4 linked regions of the Homo sapiens genome follow. The protein of the gene in region 2 purifies or fractionates together with the protein of the main gene of each other region. This does not show direct contact. Each region holds a gene or a part of one and is shown on either strand. Other genes may lie near its edges.

The links.
Region 1: the proteins of TMEM74 (region 2) and POMGNT2 purify together in Homo sapiens (co-immunoprecipitation; 2 studies listed by BioGRID and IntAct, with this or other methods). This does not show direct contact.
Region 3: the proteins of TMEM74 (region 2) and LEMD3 purify together in Homo sapiens (co-immunoprecipitation; 2 studies listed by BioGRID and IntAct, with this or other methods). This does not show direct contact.
Region 4: the proteins of TMEM74 (region 2) and CANT1 purify together in Homo sapiens (co-immunoprecipitation; 2 studies listed by BioGRID and IntAct, with this or other methods). This does not show direct contact.

What each region holds. Positions count from the first base shown.
Region 1 is NC_000003.12:43,103,077-43,110,042, reverse strand, and holds the start of POMGNT2 (protein O-linked-mannose beta-1,4-N-acetylglucosaminyltransferase 2), read left to right. Parts: upstream 1-3,963; 5' UTR 3,964-4,207; intron 4,208-6,966. UniProt on the Homo sapiens protein: O-linked mannose beta-1,4-N-acetylglucosaminyltransferase that transfers UDP-N-acetyl-D-glucosamine to the 4-position of the mannose to generate N-acetyl-D-glucosamine-beta-1,4-O-D-mannosylprotein.
Region 2 is NC_000008.11:108,784,583-108,792,120, reverse strand, and holds the start of TMEM74 (transmembrane protein 74), read left to right. Parts: upstream 1-4,526; 5' UTR 4,527-4,645; intron 4,646-6,983; 5' UTR 6,984-7,022; coding exon 7,023-7,538. UniProt on the Homo sapiens protein: Plays an essential role in autophagy. TMEM74-induced autophagy may involve PI3K signal transduction.
Region 3 is NC_000012.12:65,165,651-65,172,603, forward strand, and holds the start of LEMD3 (inner nuclear membrane protein Man1), read left to right. Parts: upstream 1-3,932; 5' UTR 3,933-3,946; coding exon 3,947-5,468; intron 5,469-6,953.
Region 4 is NC_000017.11:79,006,762-79,013,992, reverse strand, and holds the start of CANT1 (soluble calcium-activated nucleotidase 1), read left to right. Parts: upstream 1-4,228; 5' UTR 4,229-4,329; intron 4,330-7,231.

The sequences.
Region 1 (6,966 bases), on a different chromosome or scaffold from region 2:
TTTGGGTTAGGCCATAATCCAATCTGACTGGTATACTCATAAGAAGAGGAGATTGGGACACACAAGAGACACCAAGGATGGGCATCCATAGGGAAAAGGCATGTGGGGGCTCAGTAAGAAGGCGGCCATCCTCAAGCTATGGAGAGAGGCCTCAGAAGACACCAACCCTGCTGACACCTCGATCTTGGACTTCCAACCTCCAGAACGGTGAGAAGTAAATCTCTGTTTTTTAAGCTGCCCAGTCTGAAATTTTGGTATGGCAGCTCTAACACATTAATACACTCATGCAGGTCCTATCCATGTAACCTGAGCTTCCTCACAACATGGTGAATCTGTTCCCAAGGCAACCAGAGAGAGACAGAGAGAGGATGTACCACTTTTATGACCCAGTTTCAGAAGTCACATAGCATCACTTCTGACATTTTCTGTTCATTGAAGTGAGTTACTAAGTTATGCCCATATTTGAGGGAAGGGAACTAGACTCCCCCTTTCAAAGGAAAAATAGTCAAATAATTTGCAGACATATTTAAAAACCATCCCAATCTTTACCATCACCACCATGTTCATCATGCAGATTTTAAGATCCTAGCAGGCCAGCCAGGTGGAGGTGTGTATGCCCCAAGCAACTTGGATTGGGAATGTGGATCTGGAATTCAGGGCTAGAGATGTGGGTTTGGAAGGCATCCACACAGAGAAATAGAAAGGGAATATGACCCCAGACAAAGGGAGAGGGCTTGGACTTGAGGAATGCCTAACTCAGCTTGGCATGCATGAATATGGATTTAAAATGCTGGGAAAGACCTCAAAAAGCCAGCTACCTAAGCCACCTTGGATATTTAATAAAAAGAAATGTACTAGTTTTTTCCAGTCTACTAAAGCTTCCTACCAGCAATGCTCCACAGCCAGAATAGTTTTCAAAACATGATGGACTCAAAGATGATCAGTGTCTGCAAACTGGGTCCTAGGTGACTTACAGGCCATCCTGTTAGATCCTATCCAGGAGATTCAGCTTTGGCCAGAACCCAATCCCTGTCCACCTCCAGCAAGGGGCTGCTCTCTTGGACTGTTAGGTGCCTCTTTCTATCAGTGACTATGACTGGCTATCTTATAGAGACCCATAAACTCAACATAGGAGCTTTTTAAAACTTAGAAGTTTTTTAAACAACTTATATTTAAAATAACAAAACAATATATGTTCACTTCAGAATAAATTCATACAGGTAACCAGCAAGATGACAATAAAAAAACACCCATAGTCTTACCACCCTGGGTCATGGCTCATTGAAATTTTGCTGATATCCTTCTGTGCTCTGTGCTGTTACTGTGCACAAATATATTCTTTTTAAAAATGGGATCTTATGGAATATTTTATACTTTTTTCATTAAATATGATATAATGTGAAATGTCTTCCACTCTATTAAGTAAATACTATTTTGCAGCATCTTTTCAATGATTTCTGAGATGATCTGTGATTTTACTTAATCCTGCATGACTGAGGAATTAAGCAGTTTCCAAATTTGTTTTTTTTCCTACTTTTTATCTTGAAATAATTATAGATTTGTGAAAATCTATAATAAGATAGTACAGAGAGGAATCTCTTCATCCAGTTTCCCCCAATGGTTACATTGTACGTAATTATAATACAATATAAAAATCAGGAATTTAACCTTGATAGAAAGTTTGTGTGTAGTTTTAGTCATTTTATCACATGTGTAGATTTGTGTAACCACTACCACAATCAAGACAAAGAACTATTTCATCAGTACAAAGGCTTCCCTTCTGTTACCCTTATATATTCACACCTACACCCTGTCTTCAACCTCTGACAACCACTAATATTTTCTCCATCTCTATAGTTTTGTCATTTCAAGAATGTTATACAAATGGCAACCAGAGTATGTAACCTTTTGAGACTGACTTTTTTTCACCCAGCATAATGCCCAAGTTGTGGCATGTGTCAATTGTGCCTTTCTATTGTTGAATGATATTCTTTATATAGATGTAATCACAGTTTATTTAACCATTCACCTATCGAGGGGCATTTTGTTTGTTGACAGTTTTTGACAATTACAAATAAAGAAAGTAGGAACAATTGTGTACAAGTTTGTGTGTTAACATAAGTTTCCATTTCTCTGGAATAGATGCTCAGGAGTGTGATTGATGAGTCATATGGGAAGCATATGTTTAGTTTTTTAAAAGAAACTACCATGATATACCCATCTGTGAGTAATATATGAGAGATCCAGTTCTGTGCATACTCACCAGCATTTGCTATTTTATTTTTTAAGCTGTTTTGTAGTTGTTGTTGTTGTTTGTTTGTTTTTGAGATGGAGTCTTGCTCTGTAGCCCAGACTGGAGTGCAGTGGCGCGATCTCGGTTCACTGCAACCTCCGCCTCCTGGGTTCAAGTGATTCTCCCCTGCCTCAGCCTCCTGAGTAGCCGGGTTTACAGACGCGCACCAACACATCCAGCTAATTTTTGTATTTTTAGTAGAGACGAGGTTTCACCATGTTGGCCAGGCTGGTCTTGAACTCCTGACCTCGTGATTCGCCAGCCATGGCCTCCCAAAGTGCTGGCATTACAGGCATGAGCCACCGCGCCCTGCCTTTTTAAGCTGTTTTAAATAGGTGTATGGTGATATCTCAGCATAGTCTTAATTTGCATTTCCTTTATGGCTAGTGATGAACATCTGTCCTTATTTGCCATCTGTATAACTACTTTGGTAAAATATATATTAATGTCTTCTGTATATTTAAAAACTTATGATCCAGGATACAGTTTATCTTAATATATATACCAAGGTTGCTTGAAAAGAATGTGTATTCTGTTGGTGGGTGAAGTATTATGTAAATATCAATTAGATTAGGATGGTATTAGTGTTGATCTTTTCTATATCCTTGCTGACTTTCTGTCTAGTGTTCTATCAGTTGTTGAGAGAGGGATGCTGAAGTTTCCAATTACAGTTGCAGAGTTGTCTATTTCTAATTATGGTTCTATCATTTGATTTATTTATGTTAAGGCTATGTCGTTAGGTGTATCCACATTTAGAATTATGTCTTCTTGGTGAATTGAACCTTTTATCATTATATAATTATCCCTTTTTTATTCTTGGTAATTTTCCTTGCTGTCAATTCTACTCTCTCTGAAAGTAATATCACCACTTCAGCCTTTCAGTTTATTATCATCTAAACAACACTATTCAGCCTTTGCAGTCATCCACAATTATTAGAATTTCTTGGTTAGAGGCTTTTGACTACATGTTTTTAAAGGTTTTTGGCTGTATTGACAAATTGCCCTGCAAAAATTTACCAACTTAATACCTTAACATTTGGGCTAATTTAAAATAATCATAAATTAAAGTCAGGGCTTTCCCAATTTGATAGGTAGAAATCTTATAACTCTATGGAGGTGGAGTTGGTGGTGGTAGGTGCATCTCTAGATGACTTAAGTTCAAAAAAAGTCAAGAGATCTAAAAAAGAAGTCAAAAGATCTAAAATTCATAACTCAAGAAATAGGGGCATATGTATATTCGGAGAATCCGCGGGAATGCCAGATGCCACAGCCATAAGTAGCTGCCCTTGAGGACTGGACAGCCAGGACTGGACGGTGGGATAAGGTGACAGCTGGTTAATGGAATGGTGCCGCAGAGGACTGGTGCTTTTGTAAGTTCTCTGTAGCATTACAATTTTTAAAAGCATGTAAACGTATTAATTACCTTGACTTTACAATGACATTTGGTTGTTGGTTAAACTTGCATTTAAATTTATTATCAGAACTGCCATAACTGTGTAATCCTAACACTAAGTAAAACTCAGCCTCTCGGCGCAAATTATCACTCCCAACATTCCGCAGGCTGGTGGCGGCGCGGGCTGTCCTCGTACGCAAAACTACACCTCCCAGGATTCCGCGAGCCAAGGTTGTGGCCGGGGCCAGGGCAACCGAACTCGCGGCTCTGCGCAGGCGCACAGGCTCCGCGCCGGGCTCGCCCGCCGGGCAGGCGCACGGCGGACACCTGCGAGCCTGGAGGTGGCGGTCGCTGCGAACCCGGCGGCGCGGCCAAACCTGTGCTGGCTGCCTGGGCCTTCTGGGCCTCCTGGGCCAGAAGCTGGCGCTGGGGGCGGCGGCGGGGTGGGAAAGCGGCGCCGCCGTGGGGCCTCCTGGACGCGTCGGCGGAGGTGGCTTCGTCCCGCGGAGTCCAGGCTTCAGGTAAGACGCGCGCGCGCTTGGGGCTGGAGCGGACTCCGACACCCGCCTGGGACTTGAAGTGGAGGTGTCGAACCCTCGGCCCCCTGGAGGGGACGACGCGGTGCTGGGCCCCGGGGTGAGGGGGAGGTTCTAGGACGCCTTCGGGATCCAGGAGAGTTTGCAGAACTGAGGGGTGACGTGTGAAGCGAGCTGAGGGAGGCGCGGGAGGTGGGCGGGGCGGGGGTGGACCCTCAGGGTCGGGGGCCGGGGATTGGGGGTCGGGGGCCGGGGGCCGGGGACCTGGGCAACGCCCTGGGGCTTGCCAGTTCGAGCCCTCAGCTCGTGGCAGGCACTGGCGTCGGGTCCTCAGGCCCTTTTGCTTTGGGAGGTGATGGGTGGTGCACATTTGGCGGGGGTGGTGGGGAGCCACGCGAGGTGCGCGGAGCGGGCCTGGGCCTCCCCAACTGCCTTTGAAGGCAGAACCCCGGCAGGCCTGCAGCTGATTCCTGGGCGCTTTGGGGGCCAGTAGGGCACCTACCATGTGTGTCCGGTGGTAAGAGCTTGCCACGGCCTGCTTGGCAGTGCCAGAGTAGCCTCTGAAGAAGGAACCCAGTGAACTCCTGACTCCATGTGTGTGTTTAGGAACCCGTCTCCAGCTCACTGATGGGAACTCTCTGCTAAAGTATGTGACCGTCAGGCCAGAGTCTTGCACCAGGTGCAGGGCGACCAGTGTCTGCCTACTTTATTGCCAGCCAACACTTAGAGCGTACTCTTGGGAGAAGCAAGGCTCCGCGTGGAAAAGGATGACTTCAGGGTTATGGGGCGAGCTTGATAGGACTTAGTAGCTAAGAGCATAGACAGAGGAGGTTTCATTCACCAAATGTTTACTACAATATGTGCCCCGCCTTCAAATCTTGGTTCTCGGCTACTAGCGGTGTGCGTTTAAGCAAGTCACTTATCCTCTCTTAGCCTCTGTTTCTTTCTCTGTGAAGTGGAGATGAAAGTACAGTGCCTTTATCACGGGGTTGCAGTGGGGATGAAATAGTGCCAGGCAAGTCCTCAGCCCAGTATGTCTAACAGTAAGTGTGTGGCAAATATCAGCAGTCGTGGTGACTAACGACAGAAAGTGTTAGAGGTGCTTGGAGTCCAGGTTCATCTTTAATGGTACTAGCTGCCCTCTCTGGCTCTCATGAATCTTGCAGATCTTCCAGCTCATCCTTTCAATATTAATTTTGAGGAATCTCAGTCCCTGCAGAGCTAGGAAAGAGCATAGGTCCCCTCATCCCCAGGGGTGGTCAGCACGTTCCTTCCTGAGCCTTGGGCCCCTGCGAGAACGAGAAGGAGAGTGGAGATCTTCAGCAGAAAGGAGGGCATGGTGCTGGTGGCTGGGCCCACCGTGGCCATGTAAGCATGCTAGTTGGCAAGTTCTTGCTCTGAGCCTTGCTTTAGAAAATATTTAGCAATAAACAAAGCCTTCTAGTAAATATTGCACTAACTAGAAAATTAGATTACCAAATCCCCCATTCCAAGGGTCCTTGCCAATCTCAGCTTGGTTGTCAGTGGGATACTTTCCCCCCAGGACCTACCAATCACGTGATTCCCAGGGTTTCTTAAATTGGATGAAATAATGAATGTGAAAGGTGGAACCTGCAAATGTCATCACGGGCTTTGGAGTCCGTCTTGGTTTTGAATCCTAACCCCTCTACTTAATTGCTGTGTATCACTGGGCAATTCACTTAATGCCTCTAAGCATACCTTCTTAAATGTGAAATTGAATTAATAGCATTTACTTCAGGTAGTGGGGAATAAATGAGATAATGCGTGTAAAACAGTTAGCACTGTGCCTGGCTGAGAGTGAAAGCCAGTGAACAGGAGTTATTTTACCATTACGATTAATAATAATATTAGAAAAATAATTGTCAGACATGGTGTTTTGCCTTTGCTGTCTCTTTGAATTCACAAAACTACCCTGTGAAGTAGGTATAATTGTGTTTTTCAAGCCAGGAAGTGAAGGCTTGGAGAGGTAAAGAATTGGCCTAAGGTCACTTAGCTGCTAAGTGACAGGGATGGGAATTCATATCCTGGCATCTCCAGCTCCAGAACTGGTGCCATGTAATTCTCCTTCTCTGCTGCCCATCGTCCTTGCTGTTCTTGCATTCTTGAAGCCCAGTTATGACCTGGGGCAGCCTCCAGTCTTGCAGCAGGGAGTCTTCCCGCACCAAGTGGGTCAGAGGCAGGACCCTGCAGCCTGGCTGTGTGTTTCCTCTCTGTGGCTGGTGTTGGATGCATGGTGAAGCTGTAGGGGACAGTCCCTGAGTGAGTTCAGGGGAGGAGGTGTTAGGAAGAGGCAGCCCAGGCAAGCCCTGTCGCCTCTTTAGGGTCTCATCACTGGACAGCAGGGCTGGGTGAGGGGGCAGTGCTGGGTGAGGGTGCAGGCTGGGTGGGATCTGGGAAGCTTGTGTATGAGAAGAAATGCCTTCGTTTAGCTCCTGGGAAATGTTCTGGGGCTGCATAATTCTCTGAGCCTTATCTTTGCTTTGTGAGGGAGAGCAGCCCTTGAGCTGTGGATAAGGGAGGAGAAGGAGCCCTGGACTGAGAGCCAACATTCTGCCATTTTAATCCTGGCTGCCTGTGAGAGCTCACACTGCCTCTCCAGACCTCTTTTATGAAATAAAGAGTTGGAGGAAATCATTTCTAAGGGTTCTTGTAGCTCTAAAGGGCAGTGGTTTTGTAATTCTAAATTGATGGCCTAACCCTCTCAGCACAGTACCAGGGCACAT
Region 2 (7,538 bases):
GAAAGCCAGGTCAGATGTCCTAGGCGTACAAACTTTGAAGTCTGTATCACAGATGAGAAACAAGAGAAAAAAATAATTTAGTGTGTTTACATACAGAAGCAAGAGAAAACTATCTTTTCCACCCCTCCCCAAAAGATAGAAAAAAAAAATCTTTGCTCCTTGGATGCAATAATTTTGGGTTCTCTAAATGTTTCAAATATAAATACATTTCTTCAAAGCCAAATGCAGTGAGTAGGTCTAAATTACCTAGTCTATTACTACGGGAAACAAATGTTCCCAATAATTTTTTTTTTCTCTGACTCATTAAGGGTTTAAAATACATTGAATTTTGAATAACAAATTGTGATATCTGACTTTCATTAATGTCTAAATTCACTTAAGACAAAACTCAGGTAGAACAGTTAGGGGATACTGCCCCTTTTGGGAAAGGCACTTGCTCTTAACTTCGGTAATCTTCCCCATCCCTATTGTCTGTATTCAGCCACTTTATTTAAGTAACATGCCTACTTGGCCACTGTAAGCATTCTTATTAAATGGAAACCTTTCTAATTTAATGCTTTTTTTTGTTCCTAGAATCTTGTTCATTAACAAGATCTTCATTCTCTAAATTATGGTCACCTTCATTCTTAGCACCAGTATGGGGTATAGGACCATATTCCTCATGCTATCCCTATTCAATGACTGATCCTCCCTCCAGCCTATTCCAAAAATGTCTTTCTTACTTCTCTAGGACCCAGCCTCTCATAATAATAACTCCACTAATAATCCCTTAATAGTCCACTAATCAGCCCTTATTATTATTACTGAAGAAAAAGAAACTGGAACACATCCTCAGTAATTATTACAAGAGGCTGGTTGTTAAAAGTCCCAGCACTACCCTTGATTTACATGGTAAATTTACTTCTCAGAATTTTTCTTATTTTTCAACTAGTTAACTTAGTGTAGTAACGATTGCTCCTCTCACATGAAACGGAGTATAAGTAAACAGGAAAATGTGAGACATTAAAATTAGAGTAAGACCAAAATCATTATGTAGATTTCTAGATAACATTTTACAACTGTGAATTGTTTTATCAGCATATATTGAGGAACTACTGTTGCCTATGTGTCGCACTATTTCATGCCCACATATAGCTTCAAAGAAATAGAAAGAATATGTTGGTTCTCAAGGAGCTTAAATTTTATCTGGAGAGATCACATAGAAAGCACTATAAAATATACATGAAATACTTTTCTATATCTAAAATAACAGCATAAAAGAAAGCATATTATGCTACTAGAAAGCCAGTTAGAAAGGTAACGATAAGTTGAGGACGTTGAACAAGAAAGGCTTTTGAAAAAGGTTCTTGGGTCAATTTTCAGGAAAGTTTTAGACATAGACTTATGAGAGAGGGGGAAAGTATTCCAGCAAGTGGCAATTTTTGCAGAGCTTTTATTTTCAAGTGCTCAATTGGTTCATCTCTATTTTTTGTCAGCAGACTTTTAAAGGGGATTTTGTGGTGTTGGTTGGAATTGATATATTTTTAATGCTCAAGAATATGTAGACAGTCAAGTATTATTATAGGTAATCATCTCGAGTCTTCAGTTCAGTCTTGACATCTTCCCTCTCAACAGAAATACTGCACTTTCTGCAGGAGGTAAGGTGTTCAGCATGTAGATGCTGACCTTAAGGAGTTTATGATTGATTACCTTAGAGATTTAGGCACCTAAGTGAGAAGTTAAACCACATGCAGTGGCTACCTAGCCATTCCAGAAATGTCGTAAAGCAGTGGATGATAAATATCAAAAACACCAGTACTGACAAGTCCCAGCAAAGTTCACAGGAGGTGTAATCCTTGGAAGAAAAAGGCTTCAGGGAAAAAAAAAAAGTAACTTAAAATCAGTTCAGCCTGGGAATCACAGAGGTCCTCTAATCCAACTAGATGAATCCCTTCTATGAAATCACTAATAAATGGCTCTCCTTTTTTTTTTTAATCCTCACCAGTACCAGAGAATTTGCTTTCATGAGACATCAATTTAAAAGTTTTAGAAATAATGTCCTTCCTTATACAAAGTCTCAAATCAGCCTCCTTCTTAAATTTAATAGTGCTATCCAGAGCTTCTCAGATCAGTGCTTTGGCATCCTCCAGCACTCCAGTGTGTCACAGGTGTGCTGACTTATTTATTTCCTTAGCCCTCCAAGCTGTCCTGCAGAGACTGAAGTACCCACAGCCCCAGAACTATGGCCATGAGAAACCTCCTGTGTTTATCACATTGCCATAAATAGTATCACCTCTTATGTGTACTCTGCTGTAAAAAAGATTGTGAAGCATTGCTCAGTATAATGTGTTGGCAAAGAGATCAAGTCTCTGGAATCACACAGACCCAAGTTAGAACCTTAGCTCTGCCCGATATTAGTTTTCAGGCCTTGGAAAAGAAACTACATCTTTTCAAGCCTCAATTTCTACATTGCAAAATGGGTGCAATAATACTGCCTCCCTTGTGAAGTTGGTGTAAAAATTAAAGATGATAACATAATAGCACTAACAAAAAAGTATTATTGTTATTTGTTCTGCTTTTACCCTTTTAAATATACTATAGAATTCTTCTTCTATTTTTAGAAACTTCAGAATATTTGAAGCTAGTTTATTGTTTCCTCTCAGTATTCTCCTATGGCTAAATAGCCTAAGTTCCTAAGTTTTTCCTCGTCAACATAAATTCAAGTTCCTTCTACATCTTAGTTTCTCTCTTTATTTCTTTTTGCATATGTAGTACTAAGAACTGGATGCATCCCTGTAGATTTGGCTTGACAAACTAGTCCTTGAAGTGTGGATGGAATAGGGCAGTGGAGGAAAGATATTCATGCTGGAGAACCGTGTAGTAAGCAAAGGAGAAGTCATAATACATCTGTCATGTTTATCAACAAATGGGCCTCACTGGCTACAAATATAATCATATGGGGGAAAAAGAATTTTAAAGAGGGAGCATTGTGAACTCCTGTAATCATGTGACTATAGATTCTATCCAATGTAATGAAATACCAACATAATTGTCATTAAAGGAGATAGATCTCTCTTTTGAAAGCAAGCAACCACAGTATTTATGTGAGCTACAAGCACAATGTCATAATACATACTATAATCCCTAATCCCTTTTTTCTTTTTTTCTTTTTTTTTTTTTTGAGACGGAGTCTTGCTTTGTCGCCAGGCTGGAGTGGTGCAGTGGCACGATCTCTGCTCACTGCAACCTCCGCCTCCGGCTTCAAGCGATTCCCCTGCCTCAGCCTCCTGAGTAGCTGGGAGTACAGGCACGCGCCACCACGCCCGGCTAATTTTTTCTATTTTAGTAGAGACGGGGTTTCACCATGTTGGCCAGGATGGTCTCGATTTTCTGACCTCGTGATCTGCCCGCCTCGGCCTCCCAAATTGCTGGCATTACTGGCGTGAGCCATCGTGCCCAGCCCATCCATACTATAATCCTTTTTTGCTCCCCTAGAATTGTCCCAACAGGATGCTGGAAAACTGGAGATTATCTGCAAGCTACACATACCCTGGGCTTTCAGTGGCTGTTGGCTATTGCAGTCCACTCTGGTTGAAAGAGGCTGGTGACACAGTTACCTTGTCCTATCCTAAGAGTCACAACTCAGAAGATTCAACCTTCAGATTTCCTTTATTCCTGAGCCCTTTTATTCTGGCCTTCTGGTCTTTCTTCCATTCATTCCATATAGCATAACGCTTAGAATCTGTTGGTGTTCATCCCCCCCCCCCCACCTCTGCTAAGTATTAGTTGTGTGACATTGGGCAAATTATTCTACTTTGTAACTCAGTTTTGCCTTCTGTTAAAATGAGGATTTTTTTTTACAGTACTTTAACAATAAATTGTGACCATTAAATGAGATAATGTATCTATAGTGCTTAGAAGAGAGCCTGGCAATAATAAGCGCTATTTATGTTAACTGTTATTTTGAGTCATTATTATTCATACATTCAACGAATACCACTGTGCTAAATACAGGGGATGTGTTGGTACATCGGACAATCTCTTACCCCTTATGGTCATATTTCTTCTGATTTTGTGAGACACGCAATGACTTTCGAATCTGACTCCTGGATGCAATTTCAGAAGCTGCTGTTGGTAACTGTGGATGAGGCACTTACCCTCTCTGAGCCTGTTTCCACATCTGTAAAATGAGGATTAATAAAATCTACTTGGAAGATTTGTTTTGACTATTAAAAAGACAAAATATGCAAATTATCTGGCACATTTGAAGTCGAATATACTTTCCTTTTCACAGTCTTGTGGCCACACCTGAGGCTAGGGAACTCCACTCTAGGCTTAGAAAACAGTGCTGTCTTCTTAAGTGCTGGGGAGGAGTAAGAGGGTATGGCGGGAACTCATCTGCAGGAAGGGTAAAACCCAGAAGGCGTGGGAGGAGACAGAGACAGGAGGGATGCAGGGACCGCCCCTGGCCTACAACTCCCGGGATGCTCCGGGAGCGCCCCGCCCCGCCCCACCCCGCCCGCCGTGGCGGGCGCTGCCCACCCGGCGGAGCCGAGCGGCGTGCAGAGGCTACAAGTGCCGTAGCTGGTGATTGGGGGACTTTCTCCGGGAACCGTGCCGGGAGAGCGCGCGGTGCTGGAGCCGCACCGGGTGGCCGAAGCAGAAGGTGAGTGGCGGGGAGTGGGATGGGGTGGAGGCTTTGAATGCAAGGGTGAGAGCCCTGGAGCCTAGCAGAGCTGGAGCGCATATCCCCGCTCTCTCTCCTTCGTCTCCGAGTACTAGGCGGACACATCCGTACCTCGAATGCCTCAGTGGGCGCAGAGTTCACCAGAAATGGATAGCCGGATTCCTCGGCGCCTGCTGGGGGCACCGCTGCCAGGTGCTTGGGGCTCGCTCTCCCGGCTTTGCTCGCACAGGGCGCATCCAGAGGTCGCCTCCCCGAGATCAGCCTTGCCTGTGTCAGTTTAAAGCAAATATTAATGCTTTTAATTGATGACAGATGGACGAGGGAAAGTGCGTGTCCCCTCGCTTTAAGGTGCAATGTCGTTAACTGGGCTTTTAAGCAGATCAGAGGAAAAAGAGGGAGAGGACGGAAGAAAAGAGTCTTTAGCTGGTCCCCTGGGATTATCCATTCTCCACTGAGAATGGAAACCCCGGATTAGGGAGCTGCAAAGGAAATCGACTGTGCTGCTAGCATACCTCCGGTAGAACAAGCGAACAAGCGGGAGTAGCTTTTCTTTAAAGAGAGGTAGAGGCGGCCGTAGGGAATTAAGTGGGGATTTCTCTCTTCTTTTGTTATAAACTGAAAGTCTCAAAGAACCCTGCTGATTTTATCCAAGGTAGGCTAGTGTGATGAGTTAATGGTACCAAAGGTTAATCAGAGCCCCTAATGCCTGAGAAAACTGGAAGAAGAGTTATCGGTAATTGATGAAGCCTGTTACCATCACTTCATTCATTGAGGGATCCTTTAGTGGGGGTTTGTTCTAGTTTAGTAGTGATTCTTTTGCCCTGTTGTTTTTTGCTGTTTTCACTGTAGAGAAACTCCGATAACAGGAGAAAAACGTTTTCTGTTTTGCTTTTTTTGTTTTGTTTTAAACAAACTCTTAGGTGTAGCAGAAAACATGTCAATTCCCTCTCCCATATTTTGAGTTGCCAGGTTGACCTTAGGTGACCCTTGCCTGTGTTTCTGTTACCAGCTTTGGAGCTGTGGATTTTGAATTATAAGAAGCCTCAAGCCGTTGGGTTAAATCAATTATCACCCTGGATTTGGAAGCAAAATAAAAGGAGCCTTTGGTTAAAATCTCTAATGATAGTGGAAAGTGAATTTTTATTCCTTAGAAACATGGCAGAGGCAGAGAAAAGCCGATGGTTTTCTGCTCAAACCAAAGTTCTCTCCCAGAAATGCCCCTTGCTGCAGTCGGGGGTGAGGAGTGACATGTTTATAAAATTACAGAGGTAACCTTGGAAATAGCTTCTCACCTATTTGTCTCCACAGAACTCTTACTCTGTGGGTTTATAGTTTGTCTTTTATTATCAGTTCACTTCTAGATTGGGTTTGTAAAACTATCCAGATGGTCAATTTCTTGTGCATTGTGTGATAGCAAAGCATGCAGAGAGGGAGGAACACAGACCCAGGGAACGGGAGTAGCAGATCCTGCAGCTGGAGCAGGCAGGTGTGTGTGTGGAGGAGTGGGTTGGCCCATTGTATTTTGCAGGGATTGCCGTAAGGTCTGTTGCCTGTATGCTTTGGGGTCCAGAACATGCTTCCCCCATGGAGCAGTGAGGGAATAGGGCTAAGTGGAAGCACAGTGAATAAGCAGCATATGGTCTTGTAAATACAGGGCTGTGTCACTAGGGTCATTGGATGTATGAGGTGTAAGCTTAGCAGAGGTGGCTGATTAAGCTGGCCTTTTTCATCTACTTCAGAGCTATGGAATCAAAATGCTGAGTTCCTGCCCAGCTGATAGGGGTGTATAGTCATTCACTGATGGTGATGCTCCAAAGCTAATCTGTATTAGAATTTGCTCTGAACTAGGGAGAGTGTAAACACTTACAATCTTACTGAATTAACAAGTCTATGCTTCCCCAAGTCCTCCAGAAAATCGGCAGCTCTGCTAAAAAGGGCTCTTGCCTTTCTCATTTGTCTTTTTACAGGAAACTTGCCTTCTCGTTTGAGGGATCCTTTTGCAGGAATGCGCGAGTCCTTGAATAAATTTGGCTTGGTGACGGCAGTATTCTTTCTCAGTAGACACTGCCACTTCCTCCACGCACCTTTCTACCCTGACTTAAGTTTCTCAGTGTTAATCACTATGACAAGTGAGAGCATTTGTCCCTTCCACACTTTCCTGCCACTAGGTATCCCCTCCCTTCTTTTGCCTGTTTGAGGTGGAAAAGGGGCTAAACAGGTGCAGCTGTGAAGGAAATGGGGACCCCAGGAGCAACACTCCTGGAAGTACAACCTTAGCTTCTGTTGGGTTCTTATCTAACTCTGTTGCTATTGGCAGACTTTCCGGAAGCTGCTGGGGGATGTCTGACTAGCTCTCATGGAGCTCCACTACCTTGCTAAGAAGAGCAACCAGGCAGACCTCTGTGATGCCAGGGACTGGAGTTCAAGAGGGCTGCCTGGTGACCAGGCAGATACAGCAGCCACAAGAGCTGCTCTCTGCTGTCAGAAACAGTGTGCATCCACCCCAAGAGCAACCGAGATGGAAGGGTCTAAACTTAGTTCTTCTCCAGCATCCCCCTCCTCCTCTCTGCAAAACAGTACTCTTCAGCCAGATGCCTTTCCACCAGGACTTCTCCACTCAGGGAACAACCAAATAACAGCGGAACGGAAAGTCTGTAACTGCTGCAGCCAGGAATTAGAAACTTCTTTTACCTATGTGGACAAAAACATCAACTTGGAGCAGCGGAACCGGAGCTCGCCATCAGCAAAAGGGCATAATCACCCTGGGGAGCTTGGCTGGGAAAATCCAAATGAGTGGTCCCAAGAGGCTGCCATATCTTTGATATCTGAAGAGGAGGATGATACAAGTTCAGAAGCCACGTCTTCAGGGAAG
Region 3 (6,953 bases), on a different chromosome or scaffold from region 2:
GTGGATGAATGGATAAATAAAAAGTGGCACATTCATGCAATGAAATATATTATTCAGCCATAAAATAGCACCACTGCACTCCAGCCTGGGTGACAGAGCAAGACTTTGTCTCAAAAATAAAATAATATAAAACAATTAATGTTATGTTATATGAATGTCATTTCAGTAAAAATTAAAACAACAACAAATGAGTTGCTCTGGAAAAACACAACTATTTCTAATAATGAGACCAGAAAGGACATTCTTTAATGAAATGAACTCTCAGCAATATATTTATTTGAACAAAATGTTGCGTTCATATCATTCTTCAATATAAACTGATGTCAAGGCTAAAAGGGTGACATGGTGAAAGGTATTCTATTGGGAACAGGGTGGGTAGGGAAAGAGAGTAGGAGGAACAGCGTGTTAGTAATGTGGCCCAAGCTACATTGGTCTCTCATAAGGAGGCTTAAGGCAGAAATGAAATTAAAAGCACCTCAAAGAAGAGTTGGACCAGAATCCATCAAAATTGTTTCCCTCAGATTTTTGGAAGTTATGGAGCAGGACTGAGTTTGAGATTGCACTCCCTGTCAAGTATCTGGGTACAGTCAAGAATAGAGCCTCATACTTTAAGTGTTAGCCAGTCTGGAAGCAGGAGCAAGATCCACTAGCAAATGAGGAGAATGTTGGAAGTGAGCAGTGACAGTGTTGAGGCAGTGAAGGTTCTCCTGAAAAAGCGTTGGGTCTTCTCAAACACCAAACAAAGGGTAATTATAAACCCATATAGTTCCATGAAATAAATCATGCTCTAGTATCTTCAGAGAGGAAAGGTTTCTTGTAGATCAAACAAGGTCATGTATATGAAAGTTCTTTGAAAAGTATAAAGTAGTATATCAATCATAGTTGTCGTTATTATTAATATCTGATAATACCTAACTTGTAAACAAAATATTTGAACAACATTTTCACATACAGTGTTCGTTCATCATTCTCAACAAATATTGATTGAATTGTCTGCCAGGTAGGGTAGGCAATATCATCCACATTTTAAAAAAAAATTGTTTTGTTTTTTTTTTTGAGACCGAGCCTTGGTCCATCACGCAGGCTGGAGTGCAGTGGCATGATCTTGGCTCACTGCAAACTCTGCCTCCCGGGTTCAAGCGATTCTCCTGCCTCAGCCTCCTGAGTAGCTGGGATTACAGGCATGCACCACCACACCTGGCTAATTTTTTTTTTGTAGTTTTTTTGTTTGTTTGTTTTGTTTTTTTTTTTTGAGGTGGAGTCTCCCTCTGTCGCCCAGGCTGGAGTGCAGTGGTGCTATCTCGGCTCACTGCAAACTCCGCCTCTCGGGTTCAAGCCATTCTCCTGCCTCAGCCTTTTGAGTAGCTGGGATTACACGCGCCCGCCATCACGCCCGGCTAATTTTTGTATTTTTTTTAGTAGAGATGGCGTTTCACCATGTTGCCCAGGTTGGTCTCCAACTCCTGACCTCAGGTGATCCGCCCGCCTCGGCCTCCCAAAGTGCTGGGATTACAGGCATGAGCCACTGCGCCCGGCTCATCTTCATTAACTCTTAATTGGACTTACTTAATGCCTTGAGGGAAGTTTGACCATTTCCATTTTTGTCTATGGAGTAGCATTTTCTTTAACTGCTATTACATAGAGTTCTCAGGAGCCATGCTACTGAAATGGCTGCACACAATGCTTAGCTTTATATTATTGACTAACATTTATTGAGTGCACACTGTGTTACGTATGGTACTAGGCATTATGCAGATACATATAGTTTTATTTACTCCTTAAAACAGCCTTCTGAGGAATTTTTATCATCCGTCTTCTGTTTGTACAGAAACTAAAGCTCGGAAAGATGAATTAACTTGCCCAAAGTCACAGGCAGAAACATAACTGGTTCAACAGTCCTTATAGGAGGTCACTTAAAGGTTCATGAAAATCAGAGGCTGAGCCAACAGAGCTCTATGATTCCTATCAGAGGAGCCAGTATGGCATAAAGCAAATGTTGAACCAAGAATCAAAGTAAGAGACAGGGCTGGGTCCATATCTAGTTTTGTTTAACTCCAAAGCTCACAGCTTAACCACTCTGCTACATGGAGACACAAGTCCACTAAGTTTATAATAATTTTAGTTCCCACCCAGATAATTATGGCAATAAAATCTGGGTCATCATCATCATAGCCACTATAGTTTACTGTTCAAAACTCTCTTATAAGTGCATAACAGTCATAGATTCAGGAACATTTATAAATCTTAAAGTCTCAATGATAGAGGACAAGGAAGTGTCCTCCACAGAAAAGCTTTTTTTTTTTTTTTTTTTTTTTTTTTTGAGACGGAGTCTCGCTCTTGTTGCCCAGGCTGGAGTGCAGTGGCGCGATCTCGGCTCATTGCAACCTCTGCCTTCCCCGGGATCAAGCGATTCTCCTGCCTCAGCCTCCCGAGTAGCTGAGATTACAGGCGCCTGCCACCACGCCCGGCTAATTTTTTTGTATTTTTAGTAGAGACGGGGTTTCACCATGTTGGCCAGGCTGGTCTCAAACTCCTGACCTCGTGATCCGTCCCCTGACCCCCGCCCCCCGCCCCGCCTCCCAAAGTGCTAGGATTACAGGCGTGAGCCACCGCGCCCGGCCGTATTTATGCTTTTGACTAACGTTTTTCTGTACAGGTGTATAGGGTAATGTAATAGGTAAAATAACTCATTCAACAACAAAAAATTATTGTAGTATTTTGTAGCTACTAGGATTGAAGTACTAAAGAATTGTCTGTCTGCCAAGGTTTGGGGAAATGGGAAAATGGGACAAGATCTTCACCACATGGGGCACATTTCACCTCTCTGGGATTCATTTCCTATTCTGTAAATGGCAGAGTTGGGGTTCCAGGTCTTGTCCTTGTTTTTTTGACTTTGTGTGAAGGTTTCTCCACCTCACCTGGCACTAGTCTTATTTCAAAATATTCATCTCATACTATCCTCTCTTTGCAATTCTTTAATTCATTCAACAAATATTTATTGAGCTTCTACTAGTATTGTGAGTAACAGAAGCAAGGTTCCTCCACACATGGAGCTTATTATAGTCCAAAAGGATAGGACAATAAATAATTTTGAAAGTAAACAAATATTTATTAATAACTGATAAATAACTATTGGTTGGAAAGGTGCTAAGAAGGAAATAAATAGGATCATGTGTTATGTCTCTGAGAGTCTTAGAATGAAGCAGACAAGCTCTTTCACTTTCAAGTGCTGACGTAGTAAAGTCATTAGGTTTCAAAAAAGGAAAAAAAGATAATATCTTACAATTAACTAATGAATGAACAGCCATTACGCTAGAAGAAAATTGTATTGTGATTGGTGTACTCCGTATCTTCTCAGAATGAGAGAGGTGAGGCTTCTCAAAAAGAGCAGCGAGAGAAAGTCACTTAAAAATTTTTTTTTTTTGGTAGGTCAAGCTAAAGACGAACTGAAAATAGACAACCTGAAGTCAGACGGGAAAGCTGCCAATCTAGTCTGGCCAGCAGAATTTCTTTCAGTAGGTCTAGGCTCCCTCGGCATTGGGAATCCAGATGTAAAGAAAACTTACGCCATAAACTTCAAGGTAGATTTCAGTTATTACTGCCCGGTGGCAGGAACCTAGGAAGGTGAGGTCAAGGTGTGGTTTAGTAAGAGACAGCTCCCGGGAACGGCACTTGGAAGGGCAGGGCGGAGAACAGCTGGAGATGAGATAGAGAGCAGGGGGAGAATGCGCCGACACCTCAAGGTGAGAGAGTAGAAACAGTCTCCGCCGTGGGAGCCGCGCGCTGCTCAGGTGGCTCTTTCCCGCTCAGGTGAGCTCCTCCCGCGCCTCCCATTGGCCGAGATGCCCGCGGCGCTGGGAGGGCGACGCAGCGCGGTCTAGTTCAGGGTCTAGGGCGGCGCGTCACTTCCGGTAGCGCGGAGCTTGTAAAACACCCTGGAGAGAAAATGGCGGCGGCAGCAGCTTCGGCGCCTCAGCAGCTCTCGGATGAGGAGCTTTTCTCTCAGCTCCGCCGTTACGGCCTGTCTCCCGGACCAGTGACGGAGAGCACCCGCCCGGTCTACCTCAAGAAGCTGAAGAAGCTTCGAGAGGAAGAGCAGCAACAGCACCGGTCAGGGGGCCGCGGCAACAAGACGCGGAACAGTAATAACAATAACACGGCAGCCGCCACGGTCGCAGCCGCGGGACCAGCGGCGGCGGCGGCCGCGGGGATGGGGGTCCGGCCGGTCTCGGGCGACCTCTCCTACTTACGGACTCCTGGGGGCCTGTGCCGAATCTCGGCCTCTGGCCCAGAGAGCCTCCTGGGAGGGCCCGGGGGCGCCTCCGCCGCCCCCGCGGCTGGCAGCAAAGTGCTGCTGGGCTTCAGCTCGGACGAGTCGGACGTGGAGGCCAGTCCCCGGGACCAGGCCGGCGGCGGCGGGAGGAAAGACCGGGCTTCGCTCCAGTACCGCGGGCTCAAAGCGCCGCCGGCGCCCCTGGCCGCCAGCGAGGTGACTAACAGCAACTCTGCAGAGCGAAGGAAGCCCCACTCGTGGTGGGGGGCCAGGAGGCCGGCGGGCCCCGAGCTGCAGACCCCGCCGGGGAAAGATGGAGCAGTGGAGGACGAGGAAGGGGAGGGAGAGGACGGTGAGGAGAGGGACCCGGAGACCGAGGAGCCGCTCTGGGCGAGCCGGACCGTGAATGGCAGCCGGCTTGTCCCCTACAGCTGCCGGGAAAACTATTCGGACTCAGAGGAAGAGGACGACGACGACGTGGCCTCCAGCAGACAGGTATTAAAGGACGACTCCCTTTCCCGGCATCGGCCCAGACGAACCCATAGTAAGCCTCTCCCCCCGCTGACTGCTAAATCGGCCGGCGGCAGGCTGGAGACTTCAGTTCAGGGAGGGGGAGGACTCGCGATGAATGACAGGGCGGCGGCTGCCGGGAGTCTAGACAGGAGCCGAAACCTCGAAGAGGCGGCGGCCGCGGAGCAGGGAGGAGGGTGTGATCAAGTGGACTCCAGCCCCGTTCCTAGATACCGTGTTAACGCTAAGAAACTGACCCCTCTCCTGCCCCCGCCACTTACTGACATGGACTCAACCTTGGATTCGTCAACAGGCTCCCTTCTGAAAACCAATAATCATATTGGCGGTGGGGCCTTCAGTGTGGACTCCCCCAGGATTTATTCTAACAGTCTCCCTCCCAGTGCGGCGGTGGCCGCCTCTAGTTCACTCAGGATCAATCACGCCAATCATACGGGCTCCAATCATACCTACCTGAAAAACACATACAACAAACCGAAGCTTTCCGAACCCGAAGAGGAACTTCTCCAGCAATTTAAACGGGAGGAGGTGTCCCCAACAGGGAGTTTCAGTGCCCACTACTTGTCGATGTTTCTCTTAACTGCTGCCTGCTTATTTTTCCTAATACTGGGACTGACTTACCTAGGAATGAGAGGGACAGGAGTATCTGAGGATGGAGAACTCAGCAGTAAGTATTAAATCCTGTGGGTAAGGTAACAAAGAGAATGTTGTTAGTGGTCCGCTTTAGCCGCGCTTAGCGTTTTACATGAAGTGACTTACCTGCAAGAATATGGTTTAACAGCAAAAACGCAACAGTGCGTGCATGTGTCATCTTTCTTAAAGAACACCATTATCGAAATGATGTCATATGGCTGGTTTTAAAAGTTTTCTGCATGATGTATTGTGAAATTCAAAACAATTTTTAAAAGAATATTATAAGCTTGTTAGTAAAACTCATTTGTATATGTGACAATTCTCTTTTAGCCCTGAAAGACTATTTGCGCAGATGCCAGTTACTTAACAAATTTGAAGTATTAGGATAAGGCACATTATAAATGTAGTGTTTTTCCAAATTGAGTTGTGATTCTAATAGGCAATGTAATAGCTCTTGAAATTCGAATTATTTTATAATATTAACTGTATGCATAAATTCGGATTAAATATTTTGTGGTATTAACTGTATGTATAATTTCTTTATAGTGAATGAATATAAAAAAGCAGCAAGGCACACCTCTTAATTTATTTCCCAGCCCAAAGCACTTTCCCTATCATCTGTACAAAAAGTAGTGGTAGGGCAGTGCAGGAGCTTGCAGTCAGATTTCCTTGGATTGGTTTCCAGGTCCTACTATTTACTTGCTAAATGACTGTAGGCAGGTGTGTTCATTGTCATAATCAAAGTATCTCTGCCCTTAAACACAAAAAGAAGATGAATACAGACCATTTTGTGTTCTCTGAAGGAAATAAAGATGAGTAATTGGCGTACACAACTTTATTTTTTTTCCTTTTTTAAAAAAATTTACCAGACTACACTGACGTAGGTGTACACTACTTTAGATTGAACGGAGGAGGTACTATTTGAGGTGAGACCTGAAGCAGAAGGAGACAGCCTTGTGGAGAAACAGTAGACCATTCTGAGCAGAGATTAAGGCCTTGAGTTGAGCAAGAGCCTTCTTGTAGGTTAGAGTGGTTAAGCACCTTGAGCAAAGGGGAGAGAGTCAGAGTTAAAGCTTCTGAACTTTCCTAATCTATAAGATGAGGCCTCTATTGACTAGAATGTTTGTGAAGATTAAAAGAGAAAGTAAATTAGGACAAAATGGACTTCTGAATACATAATTTCTCAGTGTTAGGTCCCTCTCTGCATTCTCCCTGAAGGCTTCCTACTCTTTTCACCCAAGATGAATTCACTGTATTTTTATTTGTATTTATAAAATTGGCTTATTAGTTTTATTTCAAAATAGAGTGAAAGATGCAGTTAGCCAACTCAGATAAAGAGTAGGAGTCAAAATAATGTAAGCTTAGATTTAGATATAGCCAATTCCGAGACAGTCAAATAATAGATTTTTACTCTGTTGCTTAATTACAGGGGTTGAAACAAGAATGAAATTCAGCTCTCACTTTAGTTTATTCCCTGGGAGCATGAGTGTATTGTGTCCTGCCCCAAATATTTGGGAGA
Region 4 (7,231 bases), on a different chromosome or scaffold from region 2:
AGGTAAATTGAACAATTATCAAAAGTCAGAGAAGTAGTTTAGTAAACCTAGTATCTGACCTGCCTAATTTAGACCAAATGTCTAAATTTCAAAGACATTTTTATTTTACCAATAATCTTTAAAACTGCCTTGCTTTTCCAAAGATGACTAAAGTCATGTGAACAAAAAGGCATTAGCATTTTAATTTTTCTGGCAAAATATTTTATTTAAGTGCTTATTTTTATTTAAGCCAATTAAATAGAGCTCTTTTATATATTTTGGTTGTAAAACATGACTCACAGGGATGGTACAGACCAAGAGAAAATACCCCTCCATGGTCACAAGTCAAGCTCCCAAGGACATAAAACAAGACGAGGGGGAATCCTCATCCAGTTTTTGTTTCAGTGACCTGAAGCAAAGTTGTCAACTGACCAGTTTGCTGGGCCAGCTTGAATAGTGGGCTTACAGGGGTCCTAGGGCCACATTCTATCCTATGATACCCCTTTTATGACAGAATGACACAGAAAGCCAAATTCATAGCACAAAGTACACCAGATTCATCACAGCCTAAGACTAGCCTCACAAATCCTTTTTCCCATTCATCAAAACCTTGCAGAGGAGACAGTGATTTTTACCATTCACTCAACTGGTTTGCATAGAGAGAGAGAGACCAAAGGCCTGACTGGTAAGAAATTCTTACCCTTTTGCCAGCATGCCAGGTTTCTGGGATCCCTTTCCCTAAGCAGCCCTCGTGACCCTGCTCACAGCACCATAACTGTGGGGGCCAAGCCACATCGCAAAGCAAAAATCACCCTTTTCCATTTCATGGAACCATAGGAAAAGCCTCTCAATTTTGCAAGATGCTACACAACAAGTTGCATGGAGGAATCGAATCAACATTTTCCATTCTGGCCAGAACAAAGTGCACTTGACAAAACACAGACACTAGCCACCCCCCTCAGCACCCAATATCGACCTGGCAAGGCTCAAAACTTCCCCCATTGGCCCCTGTAGTGTTTAATCCATTCAAAGTGGGGGCGGAATGACTGCCAACCAGGAGTTTCAACAGGTGGTTTTTGGGCAAGATGGAAGAGTAGATCATCACCCAGAGTGACAGAGAAGACAGACAAGGGAAAGGCGAGAACGAGAGAGAGGAAAGGGAAGGGAGAAGAGTGTTGCCTGTGGTGGGTTGCAGAGGTGAGGAGCTCACAGAAGCCAGAGAAAGACCCATCCATCACAGTGACACTGAATCAAAAGTTCAGACAGCTGCTTGTCAAAAAGGGATCTTTTCCAGCAGTCCCATCAGCTCTCAAGTTTTCCCCTTTGGGGGAGGAAAAAAAGCTCCCCAGGTCCCATGATCCTGCACATGCCTAATCTTGTCACCCACAGCCATCAGCAAAGAGGGCATGGCAAATTAATCCAAATAGAATGGCGGTTAACATCCTGCAGTGCTGAATCCATTTTTAACCAAGAGGGCTCTTACTAAGGGTGGCCTCTAACATTCTGAAGTTGAGCCTTCAACCCAAGTTTGAACAAGCATTCTTGTTCTTTACAAAGAGGGGCCTCTAACTCCCTGTGTCTTAGGAGGGACTCTAACTCTCCTAATTTGGGCCTCTAACCCAATTCCATCCATTACCCTGGATAAAATACCCCACCATGTACCCAAAGTTGGTCAACTGGTGCTGAAGTCTATTTCCCTTGGGTCAGAGGTCTCTCCAGTGTTGTCCCTTCATGGTTTCTCAGCAAGATGTTATCAGAAAGGGGTTCCAGTCCAGGCCCCAAGAGAGGGTTCTTGGATTTTCCACAAGAAAGAATCTGGGGCAAGTCCGCAGAGTAAAGTGAAAGCAAGTTTATGAAGAAAGTAAAGCAATAAAAGAATGGCTACTCCATGGGCACAGCAGCCACAAGGGCTGCTGGTTGGCTATTTTTATGGTTATTTCTCGCTCATATGATAAACAAGGGGTGGATTATTCATGAGTTTTCTGGGAAAGGGGAGGAGATTTCCTTGGAACTGAGGGTTCTTCCCCGTTAGAACATCTAGGGTAACTTCCTGACGTTGCCATGGCATTTGTAAATCATCATGGTGCTGGTGGGAGTGTCTTTCAGCATGCTAATACATTATAATTAGGGTATAATTAGCAGCAAGGACAGCCAGAGGTCACTTTCATTGCCATCCTGGATTTGGAGGGTTTTGACCAGCTTCTTTACTGCATCCTGTTTCATCAGCAGGGTCTCTGTGACCCGTATCTTGTAACCTCCTATCTCATCCTGTGACTAAGAATGCCTAATTTCCTGGGAATGCAGCCCAGCAGGTCTCATTTACCCAGCCCTTATTCAAGATGGTGTTGCTCTGGTTCGAAGGCCTCTGAGAGAGCCACTGGATCTCTCAATTATTGCATACAGTTTTATTTCATTTTATAAAGGTTAAAATAGACAGAATTAAACAATATATTGTTTAGGGATACATACCTATGTGCTAAAATTATAAAGTAAGGCAACAGAATGATTAACACAACATTCAGTATTGTGGCTACCACCTCTTGGGGGTAGCAGGGAGTACAGAACAGGAAGAACCTGGAGAGTTTTAAAGATGCAGGAATAATGTGTTATTTCTTAAGCTGGAAGGCACATGTGGATCTTTTAGAAAATAAAAGATTCAAATATAATTGTCACATGCGTCCATGTGAAGAGATTCCACCAACGGGCCTTGTGTGAGCAACAAGACTGTTTATTTCACCTGGGTGCAAGTGGGCGGAGTCCGAGAAAGGAGTCAGCAAAGAGTAGTGGGATTATCATTAGTTCTTATAGGTTTGGGATAGGTGGTGGAGTTAGGAGCAATTTTTTGTGGGCAGGGGGTGGATCTCACAAAGTACATTCTCAAGGGTGGGAAAAATATTACAAAGTACCTTCTTAAGGGTGAGGGAATATCACGAAGTACATTATCCTAAGGGTGGGGAGGGTGTATTGTCATAAGGTCAATTGATCAGTGAGGGTGGGGCAGGAACAGATCACAATGGTGGAATGTCATCTTTTGTGGTTCTTCAGTTGCTTCAGGCCATCTGGATGTATATGTGCAGGTCACAGGGGATATGATGGCTTAGCTTGGGCTCAGAGGCCTGACAATAATGAGTATTATGTGAGACATGGTTGGGACTCAGTTTAGCATGACAAGAAACATTAATGAATTCAAGAAAGGTTTGTCTCCTCTCCAAAATCAAAAACCAAAAGTGCATAACAGTGTTTAGCACATTTCTATTTAGTTAAAGGTAATTTAAGATACGTGTTTATGACTTGTTTGGATACCATATAACATCTAGTGATCGCCTCTGGGCAGGGAATACAGAACGGCAATGGGAGGCTTATTTTTCATTGCGTACCATTTATATAATTTGAATTCCTCCTCTTGTGTATCTTTTACTGAACGGAAGGTTTTGAGAGAGCTGGGGGAAGTAGCTGGTATCAAGCAGGAAAGCTGAAGGTGCAGATGGGCAGGGGGCTGGTGCACCCTTCTGCCAAGCTCTCCTGCCAGAGGCTCCACGGCCACCAGGCCTTTCTCAGAACTTTGGGATGGAGGAGGGCGGGGCCGGGGAAGCCTTTTAACAGAGTGCCCTAAAATATCTCGGGGGCTAGGGCTACGGAGGGGAAAGGAGAAATCAGAGACCCTTGTTTGGCAGGTTTGTCAACTGCAGATTTTTTGCAGGGAAACACCCCACCGTCCCCACCCCAGGACACTACAGCCTTAGACCTCCCTGATCCTGGCTTTGGCAACTGGTCAGCAGCACTCTGGAGGCGGCTGTTTTGAAGGGCCAAGGAGAGGGGCTGCCTGAGAATGAGGATGGCAGAAAGGGGCCCACGGTTTTCCGCCTCCCAAGACTACGAGGGTCGGGAGGCCCATGTAAGGGGGCCCTCGCTCGGAGAATGAGAACTTCCCTCCCTAGTAGCCTTCACCCCCCTCAATGCCTCCCACCCCAAAAGATCTGCTGGGCCCACGTTCCAGCGCAACGCGGTGGAAGACGGCCCTCATGTGCCAGTGCGGACCCTCGCGCCCCTCCAGCCTGCAGCCAGCCGGCCGCTCCTCCAGCGCGCAGGCGCAGGACGGAAAAAAAAAACACAAAAAAACAACAAAAAAAAAACCCAAAAAAACACAAACCACAGCTCCCAGCAGCCCTCGCGCCGTCCGCGCGCAGCCGCAGAGCAGAGGCTGCCGGGAACGCGGGCCCAGAGGCGGGGCGAGCGCGCGCGGGGCGGAAGTCGGCCACCTTCCTCCGTCCCGGCCGTTAGCCCAGCCAAGCCCAGCCAAGCCCAGCCAAGCCCCGCCGATCGCGGGCACCGGAGCCAGCCCCGCAGCGGGTGAGTGACTGCGCCCGCGGCCGCCGGCGCCCTGCCCCAGCCACGGGCCCGGACCCCCGTCCCGGAGCCTGCCGCCGCCCTCCGACCCTGCCGCGTCCCGCCCCCTGACCCGTCAGGCCCCCTTCCCGTCCCACCCGTGCGGGATCTCTGCCCCCTGACTCGCAGACTGGGCTGGGACTCTGCCCTCTGACCTGTGGGAAAGTCCCCTTCTTCCGACAGGCGGTGGACACCACCCCCTCTGACTTTTGGGACACCTCATCCCTGGGACTAGCGTGGGGACCATTACCCTCTGGTTAGTGTGGGCACCCCTCCTCTCTAATTAGTGTGGGGACCATTCCCCTCTGATTAGTGTGGGCACCTCCCCCCTCTGATTATGTGACTCCTCCCCGCTCTGATTAGTGTGGGACACCCCCCTTCTAATTAGTTTGGGGACCATCCCCCTCTGATTACTGTGGGGCACCTCCCCGCTCTGATTAGTGTGGGGACCACCCCCCTCTGATTCATGTGGGGCACCTCCCCCTCTGGTTAGTGTGGGGACCATCCCCCTCTGATTAGTGTGGGACGCCTCCCCGCTCTGGCTAGTGTGGGGCACCCCTCCTGGGAATGACCCCCTCCCACCACCTTCTGACTTCAAATACCCCTCCTCTGGTCTATGCAGGGTCTCCTTGGACTGATAAGGGAATTTTCTCCCTCTGACTGGCACTTGGTCAAACCTGTAACAGGCCAACCTTCCCCACCCCATCCCAGTCCTTGCTCTCCCTGCCCTCATCCAATTTGGAGCCTTCCTCCAGGCACACAGCTCACTCTCATCTTCCTGCATGCAAATGATTCGCCCTCCCCACCATACCTGTCTCACACCCCTACTGCCATCCGGTCTGGATTCTCTCATCCTTGGAGACTGGTACCTCCTTGCCAGTCCATGTTGCCTGGTGCCTTTGCTTCTCCCTCCGAATGGTCTTTCCCTTGCCCTCTGTGTACCCTAGGCTTGGCACAGAGCACCTGTGACCACTCTTCCATCAGCAGACACATCTCTCTCCCAAACACCTTTCCCCCTTAGTGACCCCTGGAAAAGCCGTCTCTTAGTGTCCCAGCTCCATTTCTTATTTTATTCTTGAGGTTGTATGCCCTATGGCCTTTCCTACCACATTTTCAACAAAGCAGAGGTTTGGAAATGTGAGGCTCTTGGTGTCAAGTGAATCCGGCTAGCTCTCCAGTGTAAGGGCCCAAACTTGAAACAAGTGTCAGGTCGTAGAAGGCTCCTAAAAGGAAGCGGGTGCCGCAGCCCTTCAGGATCCGCTATCTCCCAGCTCTTCCTCCCTCTCCCTCTGAGGAGCTTTGCTGAGAAAGGTCCCTCCAGGCCTGGACCACAGACCCTCCCTGCAGCCCCACCGCAGGCCTCTCAGCAGGACAGTCTGGCTGGAGCCTGTGGAACGGCAGTGGGGCTCCTCCCAGGTGCTCCTCCCTGCTGGCCTCAATGAGCCCTCTATCCTAGCACACGCCCCTGCTGAAAGGCACACTGAAGGAGCCAACCCTCTCCCCTCTGGACGTGGCAAGGGTTTCCTGTCGGGGCAGCCCCAGGCATCTTCACGGCCAGGACTCAGGTGAAGCATGGATTTGTCCAGGCACTGTCATGAGGCCACCGCAGCAGTGTGGGGACCAACTTCTAGTGTCACTTTTTCATGTCCAAATTAACGTGATCACAAAAGAGAATGACATGTCACAAGGTGGTAGAGGGAACCCTCCACTCGCAGCGGGATAGGACCCCTGGACCCTGGGACACCTCGCTGGAGGGGCACATCTGAGGCTTGACGCTTCTGATTGCCAGAGGTCTCCTTTCTTCCCCTTAGGCTATAACCATATTTTCCTAGCCCATGGCAGCTTAGTAAATGTGTTGGTGTAAAAGCTCTTGGTACTCCAGAACGTTTTCACTCACCCGTCACTGTGCACCTGGTCTGCAGGACCCCCCTGAGCTGCAGAGTACGTGAGGAGACCCAGGGTGTGGTAGCAGCAGTTCTCCTGGCCCTGTGGGTGTTTTTACCCTGCCACCTGGATGTGGCTTTCGAGGTGTGTGTGCCTGTGCAGGCTCCCCCAAGTACATATGGCCCGTCCTCGGAGTCTCGGTACTTTCTGGCAACCGTATAGGTAGATAGGTAGATGTATAAATGCTGTAGTGTTTTCTCTTTCAAAAACAGAAGATCTGAGACTTGGAACTATTGTCCAGGTCCTGAAATGGGTCAGTACTATCACAAGGAGGTCATTTTTCTATTGTTTGTTGAATGGTACCAGGGATGCCAAGGACACACAGCATTCATTCTTTTCACTCAGTGCACTCTGAACTATCGAGATTTCCTGGAAAGCTCTTATGAAATGCCAATATCAAGGGAATTAGAAACTTTTATATTAATTCTTAAGAATGTTCATGTTGATTTTCCTTTTACTTTAATCAAGATGGTTAATTAGGAAAAAATCATCCTGGCAGTAGAGAAGTCTGTTTGGGGAGACGTTCTGTTTTTTGTTTTGGACCCTGCTCGTCTTTGTCATGCGTGCAGTGGTCATGTGGAGCGCCTGGTTCCCAGGCAGGACGCTGCTCCCCGCGTTCCTCTGGGATGGTTTTATGGGAAGTGAAGAAGGCGTTGAAGTCTGGCTTAAGACTTAAGACAGTGCGTGATGCCACCATGTGGGAGTGGGGCAGAGGTGAGACTGGGACCCCCCAGAATGGCTCTGAGGGTGTTGCCGGGTTGAGTGAAAGTCCTGGCGATTCGGCCTTTGTGTCCCGGGAGCCGAGCCTGGAGGAAAGCGTGAGGAGAGAAGGTGGCAGTAAGCAGGTGGGCTCGTGCAGGTGCCACCGCGGTGTGGAAGGCAGCCCTGATCCAGGTCCATGGGGCGATGATCCCATCCCGTT